Regions from separate parts of the Homo sapiens genome. Here all the other regions are linked to region 4. The links come from fine-mapping of genetic effects on gene expression. A gene starts in region 4. Each other region holds a variant in brackets. All regions are shown on one strand. Distances are from middle to middle.

Region 1 (5,101 bases), 56 kb after region 4:
AAGTTTCCAGTCATGGTGGAAGGTGAAGGGGGAGCAGGTGCCTCACATGGCAAAAGAGGAACAAGAAAGAGGGGGAGACACCACACTCAATGACCAAATCTCAGGAGGGAGATGCCACACTCAACTGAACACATCTCAGGACGGAGACGCCACACTCAACAACTTACATCCCAGGAGGGAGACGCCACACTTTCCACTGACCAGATCTCAGGAGGGAGACACCATACTCAATGACCAGATCTCAGGAGGGAGACGCCACACTCAACGACCAGATCTCAGGAGGGAGACGCCACACTCAACGACCAGATCTCAGGAGGGAGACGCCACACTTTCCACTGACCAGATCTCAGGAGGGAGACGCCACACTTTCAACTGACCAGATCTCAGGAGGGAGACGCCACACTTTCCACTGACCAGATCTCAGGAGGGAGACGCCACACTTTCAACTGACCAGATCTCAGAAGGGAGACGCCACACTCAACGACCAGATCTCAGGAGGGAGACGCCACACTCAACTGACCAGACCTCAGGAGGGAGACGCCACACTCAACTGACCAGATCTCAGGAGGGAGACGCCACACTCAACTGACCAGATCTCAGGAGGGAGACGCCACACTCAACTGACCAGACCTCAGGAGGGAGACGCCACACTCAACTGACCAGACCTCAGGAGGGAGACGCCACACTCAACTGACCAGATCTCAGGAGGGAGACGCCACACTCAATGACCAGATCTCAGGACGGAGACGCCACACTTTCAACTGACCAGATCTCAGGAGGGAGATGCCACACTCAACTGACCAGACCTCAGGAGGGAGACGCCACACTCAACGACTAGATCTCAGGAGGGAGACGCCGCACTCAACAACCAGATCTCAGGAGGGAGACACCACATTCATCACCGTCTAATAATTTTGCTAAAATTCTCATTTTTTCTACATACTATTCTTTTCAGTAAAGTTAATTCATTATGTGTATAATTACTAAGCTAATATCTTTAATTTTTTAAGACTTTACACAAATAAACTCATAAGTAAGGAGCCCTCCTTTGTCAGCTCACACAGGCTGGTGATGGTTTAGGCAGTCACTCACCATCATCCTATCCAATCTGCTGCTAACCCAGAAGTTCCAACTGTGCTGATTTTGCCCCCAGGAAACATTTGGTGACGTCTGGAGACATTTTTTTATTGTCACAACTGGAAGGGGGCTGCCACTGGTGCCTGGTGGGTGGAGGCCAGGGATGCTGCTCAGCACCTGTGATGCACAGGATGGCCCCACGCAGAGAACAACCCAGCCCCAAGGTCAGTAGCGCCAAGGCTGGGGGCTGCTCTGCTGGCACGTGGACTCTTAACACTGAATTGTCATAGCAAATGCATTCTCTCCCCAACTCTCCAGCCCCACACGGCTGGGGCAGACACACCTCCCTCTGCCATTTTCCTCTCCAGGACACCTCTTCCCACAGGCCTGGGTGCCTTTGATACTTCCTAAGAGCCAGAGCCTCCCAGTCTCCCAGACTTTGCTCCTGCCCCACAGCCTCTTGGGCAACATCTGAGCCGCCAGCCCACCAAGAGCAAAGATCAGCAATGGCCCAAAGTACAATGGGGGCCGCTGTCAGGGTGGGGTCCCCTGTGTGCCCAATGGGACACCTGGCTCAGCTCTGTGAGTCTTGTGGGGAGACAGCCCAGAGGGAGGAAGGTGCTTAGTGTGGCCTGGCCCCCAAGCCCACATCTGGACCTGGCTGAGGCCATCCTGCAGGACTTGATTGAACACTTTCTTCCTGTGTTCCTGCTGTGGGGAGGACCCCTCAGTACCAGGGCCACAGTTGGAAAGGACCACCCCAGGGGAGCTCATGAGAATGCTCAAAACTCAAACAACCCAATAAAGCATGAGCAAAAATGTTGAACAGACACTTCAACAGAGTACATATACAGATGGCAAATAAACACATGAAAAGGTGTTCAATATCATTAGTCCTTAGGTAAATGCAAATTAAAACCACAAGGACACAGCACCATATACCTGTTAGAATGTCAAACGTTATCAACCGAGTGTTGGAACCTTGTGGAGGAAGCAGAACACTCAGAGATTACTGGGGAGATGTAACATGATGCAGCCACTCCAGAAAGGTTGGTAGAATGTTAAACTTGCACGTACCTTACAATCGTTCCATTCCTAGGTAGCCAAGAGAAATGAAAGCACGAGTCCATATGACGACTGGTACATGAATATTTGTAGCAGCTTTTTTTGCAATAGCTGGAAGCTTTAAGCAATGCAAATGTCCATCAAGTGAACAGGTAAACAGCACAATGGAGCGCTATTTGCCAAGAGGAAGAAATGAACTATGGTTTCTCACCACATGGATGAATCGCAAGTAATTGTGCTGAGCGAAAAAAGCCAGACTCTCATCCCCGAAAAAAGAGTACATACTATATAATCCATTTACATAAAATTAAAATAGTGCAAACTAGTCTACAGTGTCAGAAAGCTGAACTTTATCACCTGAGGGGCAGGACACAGGAAGGGACAGGACAGATGTTCAAACATACATGAAAAACGTTGGGGGCGATGGATGCGTCCATTCTCATAGA[C/T]GCTGCGATCCTTTCAGGGGTGTACGTGCATGTCAAAACTTATTGCAATGTATTCTTTAAATATGTGAAGTTTATTATATGCTAATTATACCCCCATAAACCTATTAAAACAAAATCACAACATATCAAAACTCTTGGAATGCAGCCAAAGCCATGCTAAAAGGGAAAGTTATAACCTAAAATATATGCATTAAAAAAGAAAAAATGCTGAATATCAACAATCTGAATGTCCATATAAAAAAGCTAGAATAAGCAGAAGGAAATCACAAAGATGAGAACAGAAATAAACGAATTAGAAGGCAGATGTTCACCAAGAAAAATCAAGAAAACCAAAGGCACAAGCTCCACGTGCCTTGGAAAGACTAATGAGATGAAGCCGCCAGCAGCACCGGTCAAGAACAGCAGAGTGCCCAGAGTCCCAGCTGTGCGGGGGGCTGTGAGGGAGGATCGCTAGAGCCCAGGAGTTTGAGTCTGGTGTGGGCAACACAGTGAGACCTTGGTCTCGAAAAAAAAAAAAAAAAAGGAGAGAAGACACAAATTGCCACTATCAGGATTGAAAAATGCACATGACTACAGATTTTGTAGACATTAAGGCTAGTAGAAAGATACTATTAACAAATTTATATGGAAAAACTTGAAAATTTAGATTAAATGTACCAATTCATTTTTTAAAAGGACTGAACAAAGCAGATCTAATAGGAAATAGAGAATCTGAATACTTCAACTATTTATTTTAAAAAATTAAATCTGGAAAAAAAAAACCTCACTAAAGAGGAAACTCCAAGCCTAGAGAGCTTTACTAGTGAGTTCTTCCAACATTTAAGAAGAAATAAAACCAATGCTACATAAACTCTTGCAAATTTTTTTAAATTATTCTTTAAGTTCTGGGGTACCTGTGCAGAATGTGCAGGTTTGTTACATAGGTATACACGTGTCGTGGTGGTTTGCTGCACCCATCAACCCGTCATCTACCTTAGGTGTTTCTCCTCATGCTATCCCTTCCCTAGCCCCCCACCCCCTGACAGGCCCCAGTGTGTGATGTTCCCCTCCCCGTGTCCATGTGTTCTCATTGTTCAACTCCCACTTATGAGTGAGAACATGCAGTGTTTGGTTTTCTGTTCCAGTGTTAGTTTGCTGAGAATGATGTTTTCCAGCTTCATCCACGTCCCTGCAAAGGACATGAATTCATCCTTTTTTCTGGCTGCATAATATTCCATGGTGTATATGTGCCACATTTTCTTTATCCAGTCTATCATTGATAGGTCATCAGAGTGAACAGGCAACCTACGGGATGGGAGAAAATTTTTGCAATCTATCCATCTGACAAAGGGCTAATGTCCAGAATCTACAAGGAACTTAAACAAATTTACAAGGTAAAAGCAAACAACCCCATCAAAAAGTGGGTGAAGGATATGAACAGACACTTCTCAAAAGAAGACATTTATGCAGCCAACAAACATATGAAAAAAAGTTCATCATCACTGGTCATTAGAGAAATGCAAATCAAAACCACAATGAGATATCATCTCATGCCAGTTAGAATGGCGATTATTAAAAAGTCAGGAAACAACAGATGCTGGAGAGGATGTGGAGAAATAAGAACACTTTTACACTGTTGGTGGGAGTGTAAATTAGCAAATATTTTTTAAAAGAGAATATACTCCTAACTCTTATGAGACCTGAATAATCCTCATACCAAAAATTAAACAGAAATACTACAATAAAAGAAAAAAATTACACATCATTTTCTTTTTTAAACATTGACCCAACATATTACCAAACTAATTCCTGTGAAATACAAAAAGAATAATATATCATGATAAAGGTAAGTTTGTTTAACCCATGGTTAATTTAACATATGAAAATCAATCATCTATCATCTTAATAGATACAAAAAAGAATTTGATAAAAGTCAACACTTATGATAAAAAGCAAAACCCTTAACAAATTAGGTATAGACTGGGCTTTCCTTGATCTGATAAATAGCATCTACAAAACTGAACATCAAATATTATATTTCATAGTGAAATTAAATGTGGAACACATTTGCTCTGAGTCCTTGAATGAGACAAGACCTCCACTGGCTGCCTCTCTTCAACACTGGACTGAAGGGTCCCAGCCCCCGAAATAAGGCACAGAAAAAGAGATTAAATGTACACGGATTGGAAGGAGAAGATAAATCTGAATATTCACAGATGACATGATTACACAAGTAGAACATTTAAAAGATACTTTGGATTCAATTAAGAAGAGTTTTTAAGAAAAAAGAGGAAGGTTCTGGCATGGGGAGCTCTGCAACCCACTGCTGGGTGCCAGAAGCGAGCTGTGGAGCGGAAGATGAAGATGGCACCATGTGTCTCTAAACCACAAATGGAACCACTGATTTCTATGTGTATTTGCATTTGCTGTAATGTGTGGGAAATCTGAAGGTTACACAGCACAACTGTCCACAGCAGATGGCCCTCGAAGGGGATGAGGTTTAGAGCCAGGCAGGGCCTGGAAGGACTGGATTT
Region 2 (5,101 bases), 45 kb after region 4:
ATTCAGTGCTATCTCTACCAAAATACCAATGACATTCCTACAGAACTAGAAAAAAAATCATAAAATTTGTATGGAATCACAAAATATCCCGAATAGCCAAAGCAATCCTGAGCAAAAGGAACAAAGCTGAAGCTATCATCACATTAGCAGACCTCAAAATATACTACAAAGCTGCAGTAACCAAAACAGCAATGGCATGGTACTGGCATAAAAACAGACACATAGACCAATGGAACAGAATGGAGAACCCAGAAATTAATCCACATATCTACAGCCAACTGATTTTTGACAAAGGTGCCAAGAATATTCACTGAGGAAAGGACAGCTTCTTTAATAAATGGTACTGGGAAAACTAGATATTCACATGCAGAAGAATAAAACTAGACCCCTTTCTACTCTATACAAAAATCAACTCAAAATGAATCAAAGATCTAAATGTAAGACCCAAAACTATAAAACTGCTAGAAGAAAACATAGGGTAAATGCTTCAGAACATTGGTCTGAAAAAAAAGATTTTATGAATAAGACCTTGAAATCACAAGCAACAAAAGCAAAAATTAACAAATAGTGTTATATCAAACTAAAAGATTTTTACATGGTGAAGGAAACAATCAAAAGAGTGGTGAGACAACCTATAGAATGGGAGAAAATATCTGCAAACCAATCATCCAAGAAGTGATTAATATCCAGAATATAAAAGAAGCTGCAACATCTCAACAGAAAAAAAAAGATTTAAAAATGGGCAAATGATCTGAATAGACATTTCTCAAAAGAAGACATGCAAATAGACAACAGGTATGTAAAAAAAATGCTCAACATCAAGAATCATCAGGGAGACACAAATCAAAACCACAATGAGATGTCATCTCATCCCAGTTAGGACGGTTATTATCAAAAAGACAAAAAAATAACAAATGGCGGCAAGAGCGCAGATAAAAGGGAACTCTCGTGCACTGTTAGTGGATATGTAAATTAGTACAGCCATCATGGCAAACAGTATGGAGGTTTCTCAAAAACTAAAAATAGAACTACCATATGAACCAGCAATCCCACTGGGTATTTATCCAAAGGAAAAGAAATCAGTATATCAAAGGGATACCTGTACCCCCATGTTTATTGCAGCACTATTCACAATAGCCAAGATATGGAATCAACCTAAGTGTCCATCAATGAATGAAGGGATAAGGAAAATGTGGTATATATACACAATGGAATACTATTCAGCCATAAAAAAGAATGAAATCTTATCATGTGCAGCAACATGGATGGAACTGGAGGTCATTATGACAAGTGAAATAAGCTGGCCATAGAAAGACAAATATTGCATGTTCTCACTCACATGTGGGAGCTTAAAAAGTTGATCTCATGGAGGTAGAGGGTAAAATGATAGTTACCAGATGCTGGGAAGAGTGTGGGGGAAGGGGATGAACAGAGGTTGTTAAGGGGTACAAACATACAATTAGACAGAAGGATCTGATCATCACACACGGGTACCCGATTTGATCATCACACATGGGCACCTGATTTGATAATTACATTACTCAGCAAACGTACACCCTTATTTATGCATTTTGTTGTTTGAAAATATTACCTTAAAAGGAAAAATAACTATAAACAAATGTTTAATGATATGCACGCAGAAGTATTTAAGAAGTGAAATGATGTTTGCAACTGGCTTTGAAATGCATAAAATAGATGGATTGGTGATGGACACAAGGATAATCAATTAAACAAAGATAATAAGTTAATGACAGAATGTAGGTGATTGGTGCATAAATTAAAGAATGAGAATGCCCTTCTCTGAAAGGAAGTAAATCAGTAAAGCCCCATGTATTTCCTGCAGGTCATTAAAAAGAAAGGCTGGATAACCCCATCTCTCACCCTTTATGGTGCCAGGACCACGAAACCTCACACAGGGAGGAGAGCATTTCTCATGTTTTCCTTGACCTCACACCAAGAGGAGTTGGGTTGGAGAGTCGGGGTTTGGGTGATTTTCTCCAAAGCAGGATATCAAGAAATGCCCCCACCCCGTCAACATAGACCAGGCAGTGTGCACAGTGGGCATATGTGACTCTCGACCCATCCCCGGGCAAGAACCCCTGACTAAACGAAGACACGGCCAGCGGCACCCCCAAGGTGAATGCTCCCACATTGCTCCTGGGACCCAGTTGCCAGTGAAAGGGAGTCAAGCAGGTGCATGGGGTGTCGGAGGGTGTTAAGTGGCCCTTTTGGGCTCCTGCTCAACTAGCCGCTGGCCCTCCCTTAGCTCCCTGCTGCCTTGTAGCCCTGACTGCACCTACCCATACAGCCTTGGGATGTTGGGAGTTCCACATTGAATGATGGCAGCCCCGTGCGGGAGCACATTATTTATAAATATGTGGCATTAATTACTTTCTTGTTCCTTGCTGCTTGCATGAGATTCTCAAAGTCATATGTTGAAATTAGTTTGTTAACACCTGGAACATTTCACACTAGAAACTTCCCTT[C/A]CTTTTACCTGATGCAAGAAAACACTCTCCTCAGTGCTACTGATAAGTCCTTGTTCCGCAGGGAGTAGGTGAGGGGTTCAGGGTGGGGCTGACCACTGTGTACAGCACAGCCACCACTCTGCTGTTGTCCATGGATGTGCAGACGATGTCTAAAAGGGCCAGGTTGGTGAGAAAGAAGTACACTGGCGTGTGGAGGCCTGGATTCAGACTGATGGCCATGACCATGAGGATGTTTCCTACAAGTGCCATCAGGTAAAGGAGGAAAAAAGCAAAGCAGCAGCCCTGGAGTGGAAGGTCTTCAGAGAAACCCTGCAGGACAAACGCCTCTACGCTGTGTGGTTGTCTGCTGCCATTAGGAGCGCGAGGCCCTCAGGGGTCACTGGGCACAGCTAGTGCCACCAGCCCAGGAACAGGGTGGCCAGGCGACCTGTCCTCTTGCTCGCCGTCCTGCTGAGACTCTCTGGGACCTGTCCGCTTGCTCGCTGTCCTGCTGAGACTCTCTGGGACCTGTCCTCTTGCTCGCCATCCTGCTGAGACTCTCTGGGACCTGTCCGCTTGCTCGCTGTCCTGCTGAGACTCTCTGGGACCTGTCGGCTTGCTCGCTGTCCTGCTGAGACTCTCTGGGACCTGTCCCCTTGCTCGCTGTCCTGCTGAGACTCTCTGGGACCTGTCCCCTTGCTCGCTGTCCTGCTGAGACTCTCTGGGACCTGTCCGCTTGCTCGCTGTCCTGCTGAGACTCTCTGGGACCTGTCCGCTTGCTCGCTGTCCTGCTGAGACTCTCTGGGACCTGTCCGCTTGCTCGCTGTTCTGCTGAGACTCTCTGGGACCTGTCCCCTTGCTCGCTGTCCTGCTGAGACTCTCTGGGACCTGTCCCCTTGCTCGCTGTCCTGCTGAGACTCTCTGGGACCTGTCCCCTTGCTCGCTGTCCTGCTGAGACTCTCTGGGACCTGTCCCCTTGCTCGCTGTCCTGCTGACACTCTCTGGGACCTGTCCCCTTGCTCGCTGTCCTGCTGAGACGCTCTGGGACCTGTCCGCTTGCTCGCTGTCCTGCTGAGACTCTCTGGGACCTGTCCCCTTGCTCGCTGTCCTGCTGAGACTCTCTGGGACCTGTCCCCTTGCTCGCTGTCCTGCTGAGACTCTCTGGGACCTGTCCCCTTGCTCGCTGTCCTGCTGACACTCTCTGGGACCTGTCCCCTTGCTCGCTGTCCTGCTGAGACGCTCTGGGACCTGTCCGCTTGCTTGCTGTCCTGCTGAGACTCTCTGGGACCTGTCCGCTTGCTCGCTGTCCTGCTGAGACTCTCTGGGACCTGTCCGCTTGCTCGCTGTCCTGCTGACACTCTCTGGGACCTGTCCGCTTGCTCGCTGTCCTGCTGAGACTCTCTGGGACCTGTCCCCTTGCTCGCTGTCCTGCTGACACTCTCTGGGACCTGTCCGCTTGCTCGCTGTCCTGCTGACACTCTCTGGGACCTGTCCGCTTGCTCGCTGTCCTGCTGAGACTCTCTGGGACCTGTCCCCTTGCTCGCTGTCCTGCTGAGACTCTCTGGGACCTGTCCGCTTGCTCGCTGTCCTGCTGACACTCTCTGGGACCTGTCCCCTTGCTCGCTGTCTTGCTGAGACTCTGGGACCTGTCCGCTTGCTCGCTGTCCTGCTGAGACTCTCTGGGACCTGTCGGCTTGCTCGCTGTCCTGCTGAGACTCTCTGGGACCTGTCCCCTTGCTCGCTGTCCTGCTGAGACTCTCTGGGACCTGTCCCCTTGCTCGCTGTCCTGCTGAGACTCTCTGGGACCTGTCCGCTTGCTCGCTGTCCTGCTGAGACTCTCTGGGACCTGTCCCCTTGCTCGCTGTCTTGCTGAGACTCTGGGACCTGTCCGCTTGCTCGCTGTCCTGCTGACACTCTCTGGGACCTGTCCGCTTGCTCGCTGTCCTGCTGAGACTCTCTGGGACCTGTCCCCTTGCTCGCTGTCCTGCTGAGACTCTCTGGGACCTGTCCGCTTGCTCGCTGTCCTGCTGACACTCTCTGGGACCTGTCCCCTTGCTCGCTGTCTTGCTGAGACTCTGGGACCTGTCCGCTTGCTCGCTGTCCTGCTGAGACTCTCTGGGACCTGTCGGCTTGCTCGCTGTCCTGCTGAGACTCTCTGGGACCTGTCCGCTTGCTCGCTGTCCTGCTGAGACTCTCTGGGACCTGTCCGCTTGCTCGCTGTCCTGCTGAGACTCTCTGGGACCTGTCCCCTTGCTCGCTGTCTTGCTGAGACTCTGGGACCTGTCCGCTTGCTTGCTGTCCTGCTGAGACTCTCTGGGACCTGTCGGCTTGCTCGCTGTCCTGCTGAGACTCTCTGGGACCTGTCCGCTTGCTCGCTGTCCTGCTGAGACTCTCTGGGACCTGTCCCCTTGCTCGCTGTCCTGCTGAGACTCTCTGGGACCTGTCCCCTTGCTCGCTGTCCTGCTGAGACTCTCTGGGACCTGTCCCCTTGCTCGCTGTCCTGCTGAGACTCTCTGGGACCTGTCCGCTTGCTCGCTGTCCTGCTGAGACTCTCTGGGACCTGTCCGCTTGCTCGCTGTCCTGCTGAGACTCTCTGGGACCTGTCCGCTTGCTCGCTGTCCTGCTGAGACTCTCTG
Region 3 (5,101 bases), 30 kb after region 4:
TGTCAAGGCCAGCAATATACCTTTACTGTCCTACCTCAGGGGTATATGAATTATCTGGCTTTGTGTCATAATCTTATTCAGAGAGAACTTGATCGCTTTTTGCCTCCAAAAGATATCACACTGGTCCATTACATTGATGACATTATGCAGATTGGATCCAGTGAGCAAGAAGTAGCAAACACTGGACTTATTGGTGAAACATTTGCATGCCAGAGGATGGGAAGTGTATCTGCCTAAAATTCAGGGACCTTCTACCTCAGTAAAATTTCTAAGGGTCCAGTGGTATGGGGCCTGTAGAGATATTCCTCCTAAGGTGAAGGATAAGTTGCTGCATTTGGCCCCTCCTACAACCAAGAAAGAGGCACAATGCCTAGTGGGCCTATTTGGATTTTGGAGGCAACACATTCCTCATTTGGGTGTGTTACTCCAGCCCATTTATTGAGTGACCTGAAAAGCTGTCAGTTTTGAGTGGAGTCCAGAACAAGAGAAGGCTCTGCAGCAGGTCCAGGCTGCTGTGCAAGCTGCTCTGCCACTTGGGCCATATGGCCCAGCATATCCAATGGTGCTTGAGGTGTCAGTGGCAGATAGGCATGCTGTTTGGAGCCTTTGGCAGGCTCCCATAGGTGAATCACAGTGGAGGCCTCTAGGATTTTGGAGCGAGGCCCTGCCATCTTCTGCAGATAACTACTCTCCTTTTGAGAGACAGCTCTTAGCCTGTTACTGGGCTTTGGTGGAAACTGAACGTTTGACTGTAGGTCACCAAGTCACCACGCGACCTGAACTGCCTATCATAAACTGGGTGCTTTCTGACCCATCTAGCCATTAAGTGGGTTGTGCACAGCAGCATTCCGTCATCAAATGGAAGTGGCACTAGGGAAATGACCACAGGATGGAAGTGGTATATATGTGATCAGGTTCCAGCAGGTCCTGAAGGCACAAGTAAGTTACATGAGGAAGTGGTTCAAATGCCCATGGTCTCCACTCCTGCCACCCTTCCTTCTCTCCCCGAGCCTGCCCCAACGGCCTCATGGGAAGTTCCCTATAATTAGTTGGGCCTGGTTCGTGGATGGTTCCGCATGATATGCAGGCACCACCCAAAAGTGGAGAGCTGCAGCACTACAGCCCCTTTCTAGGACATCCCTGAAGGACAGTAGGGAAGGAAAATCTTCCCAGTGGGCAGAACTAAGAGCAGTGAACCTGGTTGTGCACTTTGCATGGAAGGAGAAATGGCCAGATGTGTGATTATATACTGATTCATGGGCTGTAGTTAATGGTTTGGTTGGATGGTCAGGGACTTGAAAGAAGAATGATCGGAAATTGTGACAAAGAAATGTGGGGAAGAGGTATGTGGATGGACCTCTCTGAGTGGTCAAAAACTGTGAAGATATTTGTATCCCATGTGAGTGCTCACCAATGGGTGACCTCAGCAGAGGAGGATTTTAATAATCAAGTGGATAGGATGACCACTTCTGTGGACACCATTCAGCCTCTTTCCCAAGCACCTCTGTCATTGCCCAATGGACCCGTGAACAAAGTGGCCATGGTGGCAGGGATGGAGGTTATGAATGGGCTCAGCAATATGAGCTTCCACTCACCAAGGCTGATCTGGCTATGGCCACTGCTGAGTGCCCAATTTGCCAGCAGCAGAGACCAACACTGATTCCTCGATATGGCACCATTTCTCAGGGTGGTCAGCCAGCTACCTGGTGGCAGGTTGATTATATTGAACCTCTTCCATCATGGAAAGGGCAGAGATTTGTCCTCACTGGAATAGATACTTATTCTGGATATCGGTTTGCCTATCCTGCACACGATACTTCTACCAAGACTACCATCTGTGGACTCATGGAATGCCTTATCCACCATCATGGTGTTCCACACAGTATTGCCTCTGACCAAGGTACTCACTTTACGGCCATAGAAGTGCAGCAGTGGGCTCATGTTCGTGGAATTCACTGGTCTTACCACGTTGCCCATCATCCTGAAGCAGCTGGATTGATAGAACGGTGGAATGGCCTTTCAAAGTCACAATTGCTGTGGGTGGCAAGCCACCCAGGTGCCAAGGCAAGAGACCGAGGACACGAGCTGTTCCAGTATAATAAAATATAAAATAAGAATAGTTATACCAGAGATAGATCTTAGATATGATTATATATGAATATCATTAATCATTAGTAGCAATTACTCTTTATTCCAATATTATAATAATCCTCACTCTATAATCATAAACTAGGAAAAACCAGGCCATACAGAGATAGGAGCTGAAGGGACATAGTGAGAAGTGACCAGAAGACAAGAGTGTGAGCCTTCTGTTATGCCCAGACAGGGCCACCAGAGGGCTCCTTGGTCTAGCGGTAACGCCAGCATCTGGGAAGATGCCCATTGCCAAGCAGACCGTGGTCTAGCAGTAGCGTT[A/G]GTGTCAAGGAAAAACACCCGCTACTTAGCAGACCGGGAAAGAGAGTCTCCCTTTCCCCAGGGGAGTTTAGAGAAGACTCTACTCCTCCACCTCTTGTGGAAGGCCTGACATTAGTCAGGCCCACCCACAGTTATTCGGAGGCCTAACCGTCTCCCTGTGATGCTGTGCTTCAGTGGTCACACTCCTAGTCTGCCTTCATGTTCCATCTTGTACACCTGGTTCTGCCGTTTAGTTAGCAGTAGCAAATTAGTGAAAGTACTAAAAGTCTCTGATAAGCAGAAATAATGGTGTAAGCTGTTTCTCTTTCTCCTCTCTCTCTCTGCCTCGGCTGCCAGGCAGGAAAGGGCCCCCTGTCCAGGGGACATGTGATCCATGTGGCCTTCCCTATCATTGGAGATGGCCCACACTCCTTATCCTGCCCCTTTGTCTTGTATCCAATAAATATCAGTGCAGCCTGGCATTCGGGGCCACTACCAGTCTCCGCATCTTGGTGGTAGTGGTCCCCCGGGCCCAGCTGTCTTTTCTTTTATCTCTTTGTCTTGTGTTTTTATTTCTACGCTCTCTCGTCTCCACACAGAAGGAGAAAATGCACCAACCCTGTGGGGCTGGACCCTACAATTACCATGTCAATTAGATGACAATACTTTGCAGGGCTGGGGCAAAGTACTCTAGAAGGCTGTGTATGCACTGGATCAGCATCTGATATATGGTACTGTTTCTCCCATAGCCAGGATTCACGGGTCCAGGAATCAAGGGGTGGAAGTGGAAGTGGCACCACTCACCATCACCCCTAATGATCCAGTAGCAAAATTTTTGCTTCCTGTTCCTGCAACATTACGTTCTGCTAGCCTAGAGATCTTAGTTCCAGAGGGAGTAACACTGCCACCAGGAGACACAACAACAATTCCATTAAACTGAAAGTTAAGATTGTCACCTGGACACTTCGGGCTCCTCCTACCTTTAAGTAAACAGGCTAAGAAGGGAGTTACAGTGTTGGCTAGGTTGATTGACCCAGACTATCAAGATGAAATCAGTCTACTACTCCATAACAGAGGTAAGGAGGAGCATGCATGGAATACAGGAGATCCATTAGGATGTCACTTAGTATTACCATGCCCTGTGATTAAGGTCAATGAGAAACTACAACAGCCCAATCCAGGGAGGACTACAAATGGTCCAGACCCTTCAGGAATGAAGGTTTAAGTCACTCCACCAGGAAAAAAACCTTGATCTGATGAGGTGCTTGCAGAAGGCAAAGGGAATACACAGTGGGTGATAGAAGAAGGTAGTCATCAATACCAGCTACGACCACATGACCAGCTGCAGAAATAAGGACTGTAAAAAGTATTAACCCTAGGTGAGTCTGTGTGGGTGTTGCCAAAGGAGATTTGAGTCAGTGGGCTGGGGAAGGCAGACCCACCCTTAATCAGGTGGACACCATCTAATGAGCTTCCAGCAAATATAAAGCAGGCAGAAAAACATGAAAAGGCAAGACTGGCTTAGCCTTCCAGCCTACATTTTTCTCCCATGCTGGATGCTTCCTGCCCTCAAACATCAGACTCCAAGTTCTTCAGTTTTGGGACTTGGACTGGCTCTCCTTGGTCCTCAGCTTGCAGACAGCCTATTGTGGGGACCTCGTGATCATGTTAGTTAATATTTAATAAACTCCCATTTACATATATACATATATATATACATATATAATATTTATCCTATTAGTTCTGTCCCTCTAGAGAACCCTGACTAATACAGATTTTGGTACCAGGAGTGGGCTGTTGTGTTGCTGAAAAGATACCCAAAAATGTGGAATTGACTTTGGAATTGGGTAACAGGCAGAGGTTGGAACAATTTGGAGGGCTCAGAAGAAGATAAGAAAATGTGGGAAAGTTTGGAACTTCCTAGAGACTTTGCCCAAAATGCTGATAGCAATATGGACAATAAAGTCCAGGCTGAGGTGATCTCAAATGGAAATTAGGAACTTGTTGGGAAGTGGAGCAAAGGTGACTCTTGTTATGTTTAACAAAGGGACTGGCAGCATTTTTCCCCTGCCCTACAGACCTGTGGAACTTTGAACCAGAGAGAGATGATTTAGGGTATCAGGTGGAAGAAATTTCTAAGCAGCAAACATTCAAGAGGTGATTCAGGTGCTGTTAAAGGCATCCCATTTTATAAGGAAAGCACAGCATAGAAGTTTGGAAAATTTGCAGCCTGACAATGCAATAGAAAAAGAAAATCCCATTTTCTGGGGAGAAATTTAAGCCAGCTGCAGAAATTTGCATAAGTAACGAGGAGCAGAATGTTAACTCACAAGACAATGGGGAAAAGACATGCCTCTCCAGGGCATGTCAGAGGTCTTCACAGCAGCCCTTCTCATCACAGGCCTGGAGGTGTACAAGATAAAAATGGCTTCCTGGGCTAGGCCCAGGGTCCCCATGCTGTGTACAGCCAAGGGACTTGGTGTCCTGTGTCCCAGCTGCCCCTAGCCATGACTAAAAGGGACCAAGGTAAAGCTCCAGCCATGGCTTCAGAGGGTGCAAGCCCTAAGCCTTAGCACCTTCCACATGGTGTTGAGCCTGTGGGTACACAGAAGTCAAGAATTGAGGTTTGGGCACCTCCGCCTAGATTTCAGAAGATGTATGGAAATGCCTGGATGCCCAGGCAAAAGTTTGTTGCAAGCGCAAGGCC
Region 4 (5,087 bases):
CACAGCATTGCAAAGGTTTTCTGGAGCCTCGTCATCAAAGTTGACCCAGGAAGAAGTAGAGGCTTCCATGTGGGACACTGTTATTTCTAATCTACTTTGAAACCGCAGGGCAGGCAGGGAGGGAGGAAGGAGAAAGAAGCAGCAGGCCAGGTCTGCAGGCAGGAAGAGGAGAGCCGGCCGGCAGCCGCCGCCTCGCTGAGGTCTGAAGCCAGGAGGCTGGGAGAATGCGCAGATAAAGACGAGCCAGACCTCCAGACCGCAACCCTCCTCTCCCTAGAGAGGGAACAGGCCGCTTTCTGCTTATGCTGAACTCGGGGCTCTGGAGACAGGAAGCGTGGAGGAGACAGCAGAGGTGAGGCTGGGAGATAGGATTTCAGTGGGTCTCTTCCCCCTTCCCGGTCTCAGGACATCCACCCCAGCGGGACATCAGAGACTCCCTCTCTGGAGGTCACCAGCTGCAGCTGAGCAAAGCCCTGAAGCGAGCAGTGTCCGCAGCTTCCGACGCCTCAGCGTGGGTGAGGGGACCTCGGTGGACGAAGCCACCTGTACCCCGGCGGTTGAACAGGAGGGGAAAGCGCTCCCGGGAGGAGCCTGCGGGCCCAGAGGCGGAACGGTGGGGGTGGGGGCGGCGACTCCTGCTCAGAAGCAGCCCCGCCCATCCCCATAAACTCTCCCGCACAGTCGCCGAGAGGCCGGATTCCTGGGCGACTCAGTGCGCCTCGCTCCGCAGGCAACGCGCGGGGGCCATCGCCCTAATCCTGATCTCATCCTTCGGATGCTGTTACTATAATATTACTGTTAGTTTATTATTTGGCCATCGCCGACGTGGCTAGCGCCCGTAACTGTCCCGGGGCGTGTTATGCACCCCCCGCTCCGTGCCAGGGACGCGGACTCACCCCTGTCCCTGTGCGCATGGAACGCGGGGAGGTCGCCTCTGCCCGAGAACTCGTCCTTGTAGTCCAGCAGCGCTTCCTTCACCGCCTTGTAGCCGTGCATCACCACCATGCGCTGCGAGCCCACGTACAGCGTGAACACCGGCCCGAAGCGCTGGGCCAACTGCGGAGACCCGTGGCTAGAAGTCAGGCCCGCCGCGCGGCGAGGAGGTGCGGGGCTCTAAGCCACACCCCTGCCGGGCGGGTATTGCTGTTGCTCTAGAGAACCCAGAGGGACGTGGGGAAAAGCTGTCTTTGTCCAGCCCGAGGTGGGGGAGACCCTCCCCTCAAGAGGCTGCTGCGTCTGCAGGGCGCTCGGGGGGTTCCAGCTGCTCTGCTCCCCACCCGCCTGGACTCCGCGGACAACTCCGCGGCAACTCCGCGGACTCCGGCTCCTCACGTCCCTTCCCTCAGGCGCGCCCACCAACCACCCCGTTGCCCGCTTCCGGAATCAAGGTTCTGGACCCGGTTCTGGCGCGGGAGCCCGAGCTGGAGCAGGCGACCCCCGCCCGCCGTCAGCCTGCGCCCCACAGAGCGCACGCGCAAGAGCGCAAACACCCAGCGCCTGCTCCGTGCTGACGGCGTTATCAGTTCATTTAACGTTTAGGTTTGTTGGCCCATTCAGTGTTCACAACAGTCGTAGGCGGCAGGTATTGGTGCCACACGGGCTGGCCCAACACTTCACGTTTCAACTCGTGCTTTGGCAAACACAGGCGGACGCCCAGCGAGTGCGCATCTGGCCGCCAGCCCGGTTATCCTGGCGTCGCAGCAGCCCGGCCTCGCCGGCCTCCCCATCATCAGCCCCAGGACAAGGCACCGGCGGGGGCCTCCGGGGCCTGGCACGCAGGCTCCGGGCTCCAGCTGCACCACAGGCGACACATTTTGAGTGTCGCTCCAGGATGCTATCAATTCAGGTAATTCACAACAGGCTGGTATTGAACAACCACAATTTGTCTGCAAATGAGTTGAATACACACATACCAGATCCAATTGCTGAGTTATTCTCCCTAAAATCAACACTATTTCTCTTACCCGGGTGAAGGACTTGGGAATATTCTTCAATTCCAACTGGAAGAGGTTCCCGATGATGGGAAGCGGGAAAGGGCCTGGGGGCAGATTCCAGCTGCTGTGCACCTGCCTCCACATGGACACCAGCAGGAGGAAGGCCGCCCACACCAGCAGGGCCACGGTGACTCCGAGGGCAGACATGGTGCCGCTGGGGCCCTGCTGCCAGCCCGGGAGACAATCCTGTGGAAACGGAAGGTTTTTATAATGTGTTCTGAGAAGGAGGGTGACCCACCAACCAATGCCCTCTTGCTACTCGTCTATCCCAAATTACTGGTTTATTATTAGCTGCTGTTGGCCATCGTTTCAAAGGCTGATTCCCGCAATGGTGGCCCCCAGGGGTTCCAGCCAGTGACCTGGTGAGGATGGAGTTGGACTGTGTCAACACCCTGGTTGCTAGCACCTGTCACTGTGCCAGCAAACACATCCAGGAACATGTTGCCAACCCATAGTTAAGAACGTGGGGTGAGGTACCGTCCTGCCCTTTGGCACTGGTTAGACAACGGGGAACTCCAGCCACATCCCCATGCATTTGTTTGGAGTAGGGTTTATGTAATACAACTCCAACCCCATGCCGACCACCTCTAGACACGGTACCGGCCCTCCTGGTGCAACAGCCTCTTGATGTCTGATGAGGAGGTTTGTCTGAGCAGCCCCCAGTAGTACCTGAATCACCACCTGCCACATGAATGGGGCCAGAAGGAAAATTCAACATCGGAATTCGATTCCACTTTCTCAAGTTAACTGGAAAATTCCATGGAAGAAAAATAAAAGGAAAGAGTGAGTCAACCAATTCTGAGAAAGTTAATCTCTGTTTTCATTTTTTTTAAAGGTATATATTCTGGCTGTAGAAAATTAAGAAAAATTGTTCTTTGGAATTATTCCAAATTTAAATTCTTAAAAAATTACATTAGAGTTTTATTGGATTTGTTTTACATTAGGGTAAATTTAGAAGACGATTTTAAAGATATCTTGTCTTTGTTGATCCCGGGACACAATAGAGCTCCACATTGACTAGCTTCTTCTTTCATGTATTAATTATTTTCTTCATACAGACCCTCTTCCACCTTCTATGAAGGTAGTCCATAGGTATTTTGTGGAGCTTTTTTGTGTGTGTGGTTAGAATGAAGAGAATGTTTTTCATTCTGTCTTCTAACTGGCAATATATAGAAGTTCTTAATTCATAGGTTGCAATTTTGTACTTTTATATTAACAATGAATCTTTATGTATAATAGAAAATATGATGAGAAATGAAGAAAATAAAAGTCATTTACAATCCAGCCAAATCACTTGTGGATTTTGAGTTATGCCATTCTATACTTGTATTTATACAAAAATGAGACTACATACTATATATTGCATTCTAACCCAGTTTTTCTCTTGACAATTTATTAGCCACATAAGCAAGTCATTGGTTGTGCTGCACCTAACACTGCACCTCTCCTGAACCAAGAAGGGGCGTTGGCCTCTGGCAGAGGCTTCAGGGGCCTTTGCTTCCCTCTGGTTTTTGGCACCCCTCGAGGTGAGAACTGACAATGTAGACTCGACTGGCTCACGGGTGGGTTAGCCTGCCGCCTCCTCCTCTCTTTCCTTTCCAGTGGCCAGTGTGAGGTGGCAGGGACAATTCCCTGGGCAGAAACAGCTGTCCAGACCCCTGAACCCTGTTGTCCTGTGTGGGCCCAGCCAGGCCTGGCCGGGACAGACACCCATTGGGGTCCACAAGTTTCCTCGATTACTGGTTCCTTCTTCTAGTGCTTGAGAGCAGCAGAGTCAGCTCCCCACAGACTGAAATTGAAGCCTTGGCTTTGGTGGGGTGAGAACAGGAAGCATCAGGGTGGAGAGGCAGAGCAGGCCTCTGGCTCCCCTGGGCTGAGGACACCTTGTCTGTGCAGCTCACCTGAGTGTGCACATCCCAGGCGGGACCCGCGTGCCCTGGAGAGTCTGTGCCTCACAGGGATGCAGCTGTGGTCTGAGTCCTCTGGCCATAATACTGTTAGATGCCCAACCAACATCAAATTTTATATACGGGAACACCTCGTTTGAAAATAATGACATTTCTGTGTGCTTCTTTTCAGAAGCCGGGGCTTTTATTTGTTTTGCATCTGTCCCATTGGCAGGACACTCTAGGACAAGGTGAAATAATCAGGATGACAGAGTGCCTGTGCCTCTGCCCGTGACAAGGTGAAATAATCAGGACGACAGAGTGCCTGTGCCTGTGACAAGGTGAAATAATCAGGACGACAGGGTGCCTGTGCCTGTGACAAGGTGAAATAATCAGGACGACAGGGTGCCTGTGCCTCTGTCCGTGACAAGGTGAAATAATCAGGACGACAGGGTGCCTGTGCCTCTGCCCGTGACAAGGTGAAATAATCAGGACGACAGGGTGCCTGTGCCTCTGCCTGTGCCCGTGGCAGGGTGTTCTTCAGGCTTCCATCACGTCTGCTGTTGGCTGGGTGTGGCAAAGAGGTGACTGTATTGGGACAATTTTCTTCTTTCTCTAGATAACTAACAGTGTTTATCAGGGATGAGAGTTGGGTTAATGAAATCTTTTTTTGATTGAGACAATCCTGTGATTTTTCTCCATAGACCTGCTAGTATGATGCTAGAAGAAAACACTGTCTCACAATGTACCATAAAATTACCATAAATTTTTATATTGTATCATAAAAGTACCTCATAGTTCCACATCACAACCAACTCGTTCATGGAGTGATACTCTTTTAACACCCTAAGGATTCAACTTGTTAATAGTATTTTTAGTAATTTTGCATCTATACCCACAAATAAAATCGGGCTATAATTTTTGTGTTATATTAGGTTCTTGCATAAAAATTGCACTATTCTAGAAATCATTGCAAAACCCCTGTCTTCTCTGTGACTGGGGATACTTTATACTGTAGGGGAATTTTCTGTGCTTCAAAATTTTAATAGAACTCACTAGTAAAGCAATATAGAGAAGATTTACTGGAATTAAATAATTGTTTATAAAGATTAGAAAGATAATTTTAATTGGGGAAGTAAAATATCTCCTTTTAACGAATGCAAACAACACAAAAGTGGGTGAAGTGGAAACTGCGAGTCCCAAATTC
Region 5 (5,101 bases), 110 kb after region 4:
ACATTCAGGGATCACACAGTTCTGCCTGTTCTCAGGGCACAGCAACTGCCAATCCCGCTGAAGAGGCCTCCCTGGGCACAGCACAGGCTGCACGGTGCACGCATTTCCCTGAAGGCAGCCCCTTCTTCGGAAGCAGCTGTTCCAGGCCTCGGAACAGGGCCTGGGTATCCGCGTGGTGGGCTGGCAGCTGACGGCCTGCTCAGTGGAGCCAGGAGCTAACTCAGACCCCAAAGCAAGCAGGGGGCCAGTGGCGGGGCCCAGCGCCCAGCAGGACACCCATGCAAGAGGCTGAGCCCCCCAACATCCAAGGACAGGAGAGACATGGAGTGGCGCTGGACAGTCACGACAAGGACTTGCCTCCAGCACTGGACACACCTGTGTTAAGACCAGCCCTCTGCTTCCCAGTCCCGCCAGCCTGGGGCATCCTCCATGGGCTCAGCACTGAGAGGTCTTGGGTCTGCCACGTTCTCTAGCTCTCCAGTCACCCACTCATCCAGGGTAGGAGGGGTTCTCCCTGCCCCCCGCCGTGGCCTTGGGATCTCACCCTCTCCATGTCCTGGGGACAGCCTCGCCCTCAGCCGGACTGCATCCCTCCTGGGCCTGAGCCTCGGGACTCAGTGGACACCAAAGTCAAGACCAGCACCCACCACGGGCCCTGCCAGCCTCTGCCTTCCCCAGCTGGCCTGGGTTCTGGCCTGGGTGAGGATCTGGAAGCTGTTGGCAGGACTCAACCAAGCACTGCTCTCTAGCTCCAGGGCACTAAGCCACAGGAGGCAGCGCCCTGCAGCCTCCCGTCCACACTGCCAGCAATGCCCCTGGCCCAGTGAGCCCAGACGCTCCTCCACCCCTTCCAGACCAAGCTCAACGCCTCCAAGACCAGCAGGCCAAGGCCAAGCCCTGCCCCAGATCCTCATAGGCAGAGAAGCCCTTCTGACATTTCCCCCAGGAGGCAGGGGGTGGTCTGAGTCTCCTCACAGCAGAGAGACCCACCGGAGCCCCCTCAACTTTGCAGATGCCCACCTGGAAAATGGGCTGAGCTGCACCAGACCCTCACACACCACAGCACTGCAAGCTGATGGAATGTTCCAGTTATGATGGACACTTCGTGATCTGCAATGACTGTTGATTCAGCACATTAGCATCTGACACAGCCAACCTGAATACTTCCTGCCCCAGGCGGTCAGGGTTATGGCACGATGCAGGTGGCACTCAGGGGCTAACTTCAGGCTGATGAGTGTGTGGGGTATGGGGCAGCAGAGGCAGCCAGCCAGCAAAGAGGGGCCACTGAGCACCAGGGCCCTGGTGGAGGCTGCTGTGGGACGGTCAGGCCACCACCGCAAAGAGGCAGCCGGAGCTTCTGCACAGGATGTCCCTGGCCCCAGGTCCTGCAGCACCTTAGTCCATACTACCAGCCCCACCCACCTTCCTTCCTCTTCCCTCTTCTAGGACACAGGCTGTGGACCCCTTCAGGTGCACTATAATGGGGCTGGAGGGGCCCCCACATCTCTCAGCCCCACTAATGCAGAATCCCACTACCCGTGAGCTAGAAGGTGCTCAGAGGCCAGGGGTCTCTACTGCCCATGCCGGGCGGCCTTCCAGTCATTGCACAGCAAAGCCATGTGCAGGGCGTCCCCCTCAACCCTGCCCTGAACATGCCCCAGGGCACTGAGGGGCGAAGCCAGTGCTTGGGCTCTGCTGCTGGGAGTCTCTGGTCTGTGTCTGTGTGTGCCTGTAAGTGTGAAATAAACCTCTCTGATGGCAGCAAGCCTCTCACTTGTTGTAGGACTGCAAGACACTGGACCGAAAGCCTCCAACACAAACCCTAGCTGCCAACCTGCTCATTTCTTAGGTTTCACTGGTGAGAGCAGCTTTAACACACAGGCCCAAGGCACTACGGTGCACCTCACAGGCCAGTAAGAAACAGGCCCTTTAACTGGAGATTTTAAAGGTTACAGGTTATAGCTTTAACTCCTTCTGAGACAGCATCCATTTCTCAAGAGGCCTGAGCAGGAAGCTCCGGGAGAACCAAGCATGCGGAGCTGCTCAGGGACGTCCAC[T/A]GGGAAGCCTGGTGTCCACTCCCACCTGCTTGGGCCCTGCAACTGGGGTCCCTGGAGCTGGCCAGGCTGTGGGGCGCCAGAGAGCACAGCACCCTAGTGACCAGCATGGAGCTTCTGGACCGGGTGAGCTGTCTTGAGCCTCAACCACCCAGGTCAGGAGGTCTGGGAGGCCACATGCCTCCGGCCCTCCCTACCCGGACAAGTTCAGGGCAAAGTCTCAGCCGGGGGGTGGCCCCGCAGGACGTCGAGGTCCAGCATCACGGAACCCAGCAGCCCACGGCGGAAAGTCTGCAGGAAGTCACGGGCTGCCGCAGGATAGTTAGGCTGAATAATGTTCACGTTACCTGGGGGACGGGAGGGTTCAGTGAGGAAGGAGCCTTCACAGCAGGACAGGCCCAGCCCTTACCCACCTGAGGGACCAGCCCTAAGAGGCTCCATGATGGCATCAGGGAAGCCCAGGGAACGGGATCACACTCAGAAAGAAAACAGCTTGAGCTACGCTGCCCGGAGCCTCCAAGGCCAGGCATGTGAGGCCTGCAGGTGTCCACCTAGCACTGCCCAATACGCGGCAGGGCTGGTCTCACCCTCGGAAGCCTGGACTACAAGCCCTTCCTCTCCAGAACTTTCTGTAGCTCCCCTGCCCTGAAACCCATTCCCAGAAGACCCGGCGCATGCTCCTTGACACGTTCCTCTCCTCCCTGCCTCCTCCAGGGATGGCCGGGGTCCCCCAGGGTGATGGGGTGAGGCTCCGGTGCCCGCATCAGCGACCTCACTCACCCGTGCCCGTGAGCACCTTCACCTTCTGCGTCTTCCCCAGCTTCACAGCCACACTCTTCAGCACGCGCTCTACGTTGTCACAGGCACTGCCCAGGCCGTAGTGCTGCACGTACCTGCACATAGGCTGCAGGTCAGCACCAGGGGGCCCAGCACTGACACCGCGCGGCCAGCCAGGCCGGGCCCTTCCTCCTGAATGCCACAAAGGCCACGGCCAGGCACCTCCTGTGGGTGACAGTGACTGCGGCGCTGTGGATGACCAAGATGAGACTGCAGGTGACCGGTGCTGGGCCCCGGGGGAGAGCCACTATCTAAGAATCATCCCTGAGCTTCGTCCTGTGTGGCCACGGCCAGCAGCATGGGGGGCGGCTCCCACCACCGGAGCCCTTGCCGCAGCGGGAGGAGTAACAGCTGTTCACACACACAGGCTTCATCCACTCTATCCGGGGTAGGACAGGCAGGCCTCTGTGCAGGCCCAGGTCCTGGAAACTAAAAGAGGAGCACAGCAGACCATCTGCAAACATACTCTGTTTGCTGCTAAGGATGGCACTCGGTAACTTCCAGGCAGCCAGTACACCTGCATCCTCTCCACCCGGCTGGGTGTTTGAGCGGTGTTTTCCTAGCACAGGGACCAGCATGGGCTGACTAGGCACCCACCGCTGCTAAGCGTCACCCAGTGATTGTAACGGGCACTCTGACTCCTCACAGTGCAGGCTCTGGGCAGAGAGGCCTGGAGGGAAAGGCCAGCACAGAGCAGCCACTCACAGGGACAAACACCACCCTAAGCCTTGGGAGCCCGACTAACCCAGACCCAACACTCTCCCAACCTTCCTGACAGCCAGGGGTGAGGGGAACCTGTCTCGTGGCTCCCACGAGGGCAGGCTCAACCTTGAGGAGGCTGGTGCCCTCGGACCTGGTCACAGCATGAGCCGGTAACAGAGGACTCACCCCAAGGCCCAGCAAAGCAAGACATGAGCTCAGAGCCCATAGGAGCATCAGAACCCTGAGTAACACAGGTTCTAAATCTAACTTCTCGGAGGCACCAAGCATGAGCTCTGAATCAGCAGCCTCAAGGGTGCCCTGGTGCTCCAAAAAAGCTGTCCCAGGAGAGAGGAGCAAGCCTGGAGGAGGCGCCCCGGACCACCCCCGAGACCTGCCAATGGGAAGAACTCCTGAAAGGACCGGACTGTTTCCAATAATCTAACTGTCCCACAACAAAGCTCAAGAATTTTTACAGGAATGTAGATATCCATCACCTAACAAGGTGAAACTCAAAATACATGGCATCCAGCCAGGCATGGTGGCTCACGCCTGTAATCCCAGAACTTTGGGAGGCCAAGGTGGACGGATCACTTGAGGTCAGGAGTTCGACACCAGCCTGTTCACCAATATGGTGAAACCCTGTCTCTACTAAAAATACAAAAATTAGCCAGGTGTGGTGGCACATGCTTGTAATCCCAGCTACTTGGGAGGCTAAGGCGGGAGAATCGCTTGAACCCAGGAGGTGGAGGCTGCAGTGGGCTGAGATTGTGCCACTGCACTGTAGCCTGGCTGGGCGACAGAGTGAGATGCCATCTCAAAAAAAAGAAAAAAAGAAAGTCATTGGTAGCTTGATGGGGATGGCATTGAATCTATAAATTACCTTGGGCAGTATGGCCATTTTCACAATATTGATTCTTCCTACCAATGAGCATGGAATGTTCTTCCATTTGTTTGTATTCTCTTTTATTTCATTGAGCAGTGGTTTGTAGTTCTCCTTGAAGAGGTCCTTCACGTCCCTTGTAAGTTGGATTCCTAGGTATTTTATTCTCTTTGAAGCAATTGTGAATGGGAGTTCACTCATGATTTGGCTGTTTGTCTGTTATTGGTGTATAAGAATGCTGGTGATTTTTGTACATTGATTTTGTATCCTGAGACTTTGCTGAAGTTGCTTATCAGCTTAAGGAGATTTTGGGCTGAGACAATGGGGTTTTCTAGATATACAATCATGTCATCTGCAAACAGGGACAATTTGATTTCCTCTTTTCCTAATTGAATACCCTTTATTTCCTTCTCCTGCCTAACTGCCCTGGCCAGAACTTCCAACACTATGTTGAATAGGAGTGGTGAGAGAGGGCATCCCTGTCTTGTGCCAGTTTTCAAAGGGAATGCTTCCAGTTTTTGCCCATTCAGTATGATATTGGCTGTGGGTTTGTCATAGATAGCTCTTATTATTTTGAGATACGTCCCATCAATACCTAATTTATTGAGAGTTTTTAGCATGAAGGTTG

Evidence for each region.
Region 1: its variant is fine-mapped to the expression of CYP2E1 in whole blood (TOPMed, PIP above 0.99).
Region 2: its variant is fine-mapped to the expression of CYP2E1 in atrial appendage (GTEx, PIP 0.99).
Region 3: its variant is fine-mapped to the expression of CYP2E1 in whole blood (TOPMed, PIP 0.98).
Region 5: its variant is fine-mapped to the expression of CYP2E1 in whole blood (TOPMed, PIP above 0.99).

What each region holds. Positions count from the first base shown.
Region 1 is chr10:133,468,099-133,473,199 of GRCh38, reverse strand. SCART1 (scavenger receptor family member expressed on T cells 1) reads right to left here. Exons shown (of 12, transcript NM_001396050.1): 12 at 3,440-5,101. Among named protein-coding and RNA genes, the nearest start is that of SCART1, 17 kb to the right of the region's middle. The variant C/T (reference allele first, on the strand shown) is at 2,589.
Region 2 is chr10:133,478,959-133,484,059 of GRCh38, reverse strand. It overlaps the pseudogene OR7M1P. Among named protein-coding and RNA genes, the nearest start is that of SCART1, 28 kb to the right of the region's middle. The variant C/A (reference allele first, on the strand shown) is at 2,487.
Region 3 is chr10:133,494,813-133,499,913 of GRCh38, reverse strand. The region is part of intron 4 of LOC105378575 (a long non-coding RNA gene); the gene reads left to right. Among named protein-coding and RNA genes, the nearest start is that of CYP2E1, 30 kb to the left of the region's middle. RefSeq lists a silencer at 2,312-2,391. The variant A/G (reference allele first, on the strand shown) is at 2,416.
Region 4 is chr10:133,524,450-133,529,536 of GRCh38, reverse strand. It overlaps CYP2E1 (cytochrome P450 family 2 subfamily E member 1), which reads right to left and starts at 2,174. Exons shown (of 9, transcript NM_000773.4): 1 at 1,965-2,174; 2 at 897-1,056. The coding sequence starts at 2,141. It overlaps LOC105378575 (a long non-coding RNA gene), which reads left to right and starts at 2,578. Exons shown (of 5, transcript XR_946512.3): 1 at 2,578-2,777; 2 at 3,394-5,087. RefSeq lists cis regulatory regions at 2,471-2,495, 3,721-3,727, promoters at 2,167-2,720, 2,079-3,536, 2,167-5,087 and enhancers at 2,721-2,848, 3,137-3,549.
Region 5 is chr10:133,417,326-133,422,426 of GRCh38, reverse strand. MTG1 (mitochondrial ribosome associated GTPase 1) reads right to left here. Exons shown (of 11, transcript NM_138384.4): 10 at 2,835-2,947; 11 at 1-2,401. The coding sequence ends at 2,262. It overlaps SPRN (shadow of prion protein), which reads left to right. Exons shown (of 2, transcript NM_001391974.1): 2 at 1-1,761. Among named protein-coding and RNA genes, the nearest start is that of SPRN, 4.7 kb to the left of the region's middle. The variant T/A (reference allele first, on the strand shown) is at 2,058.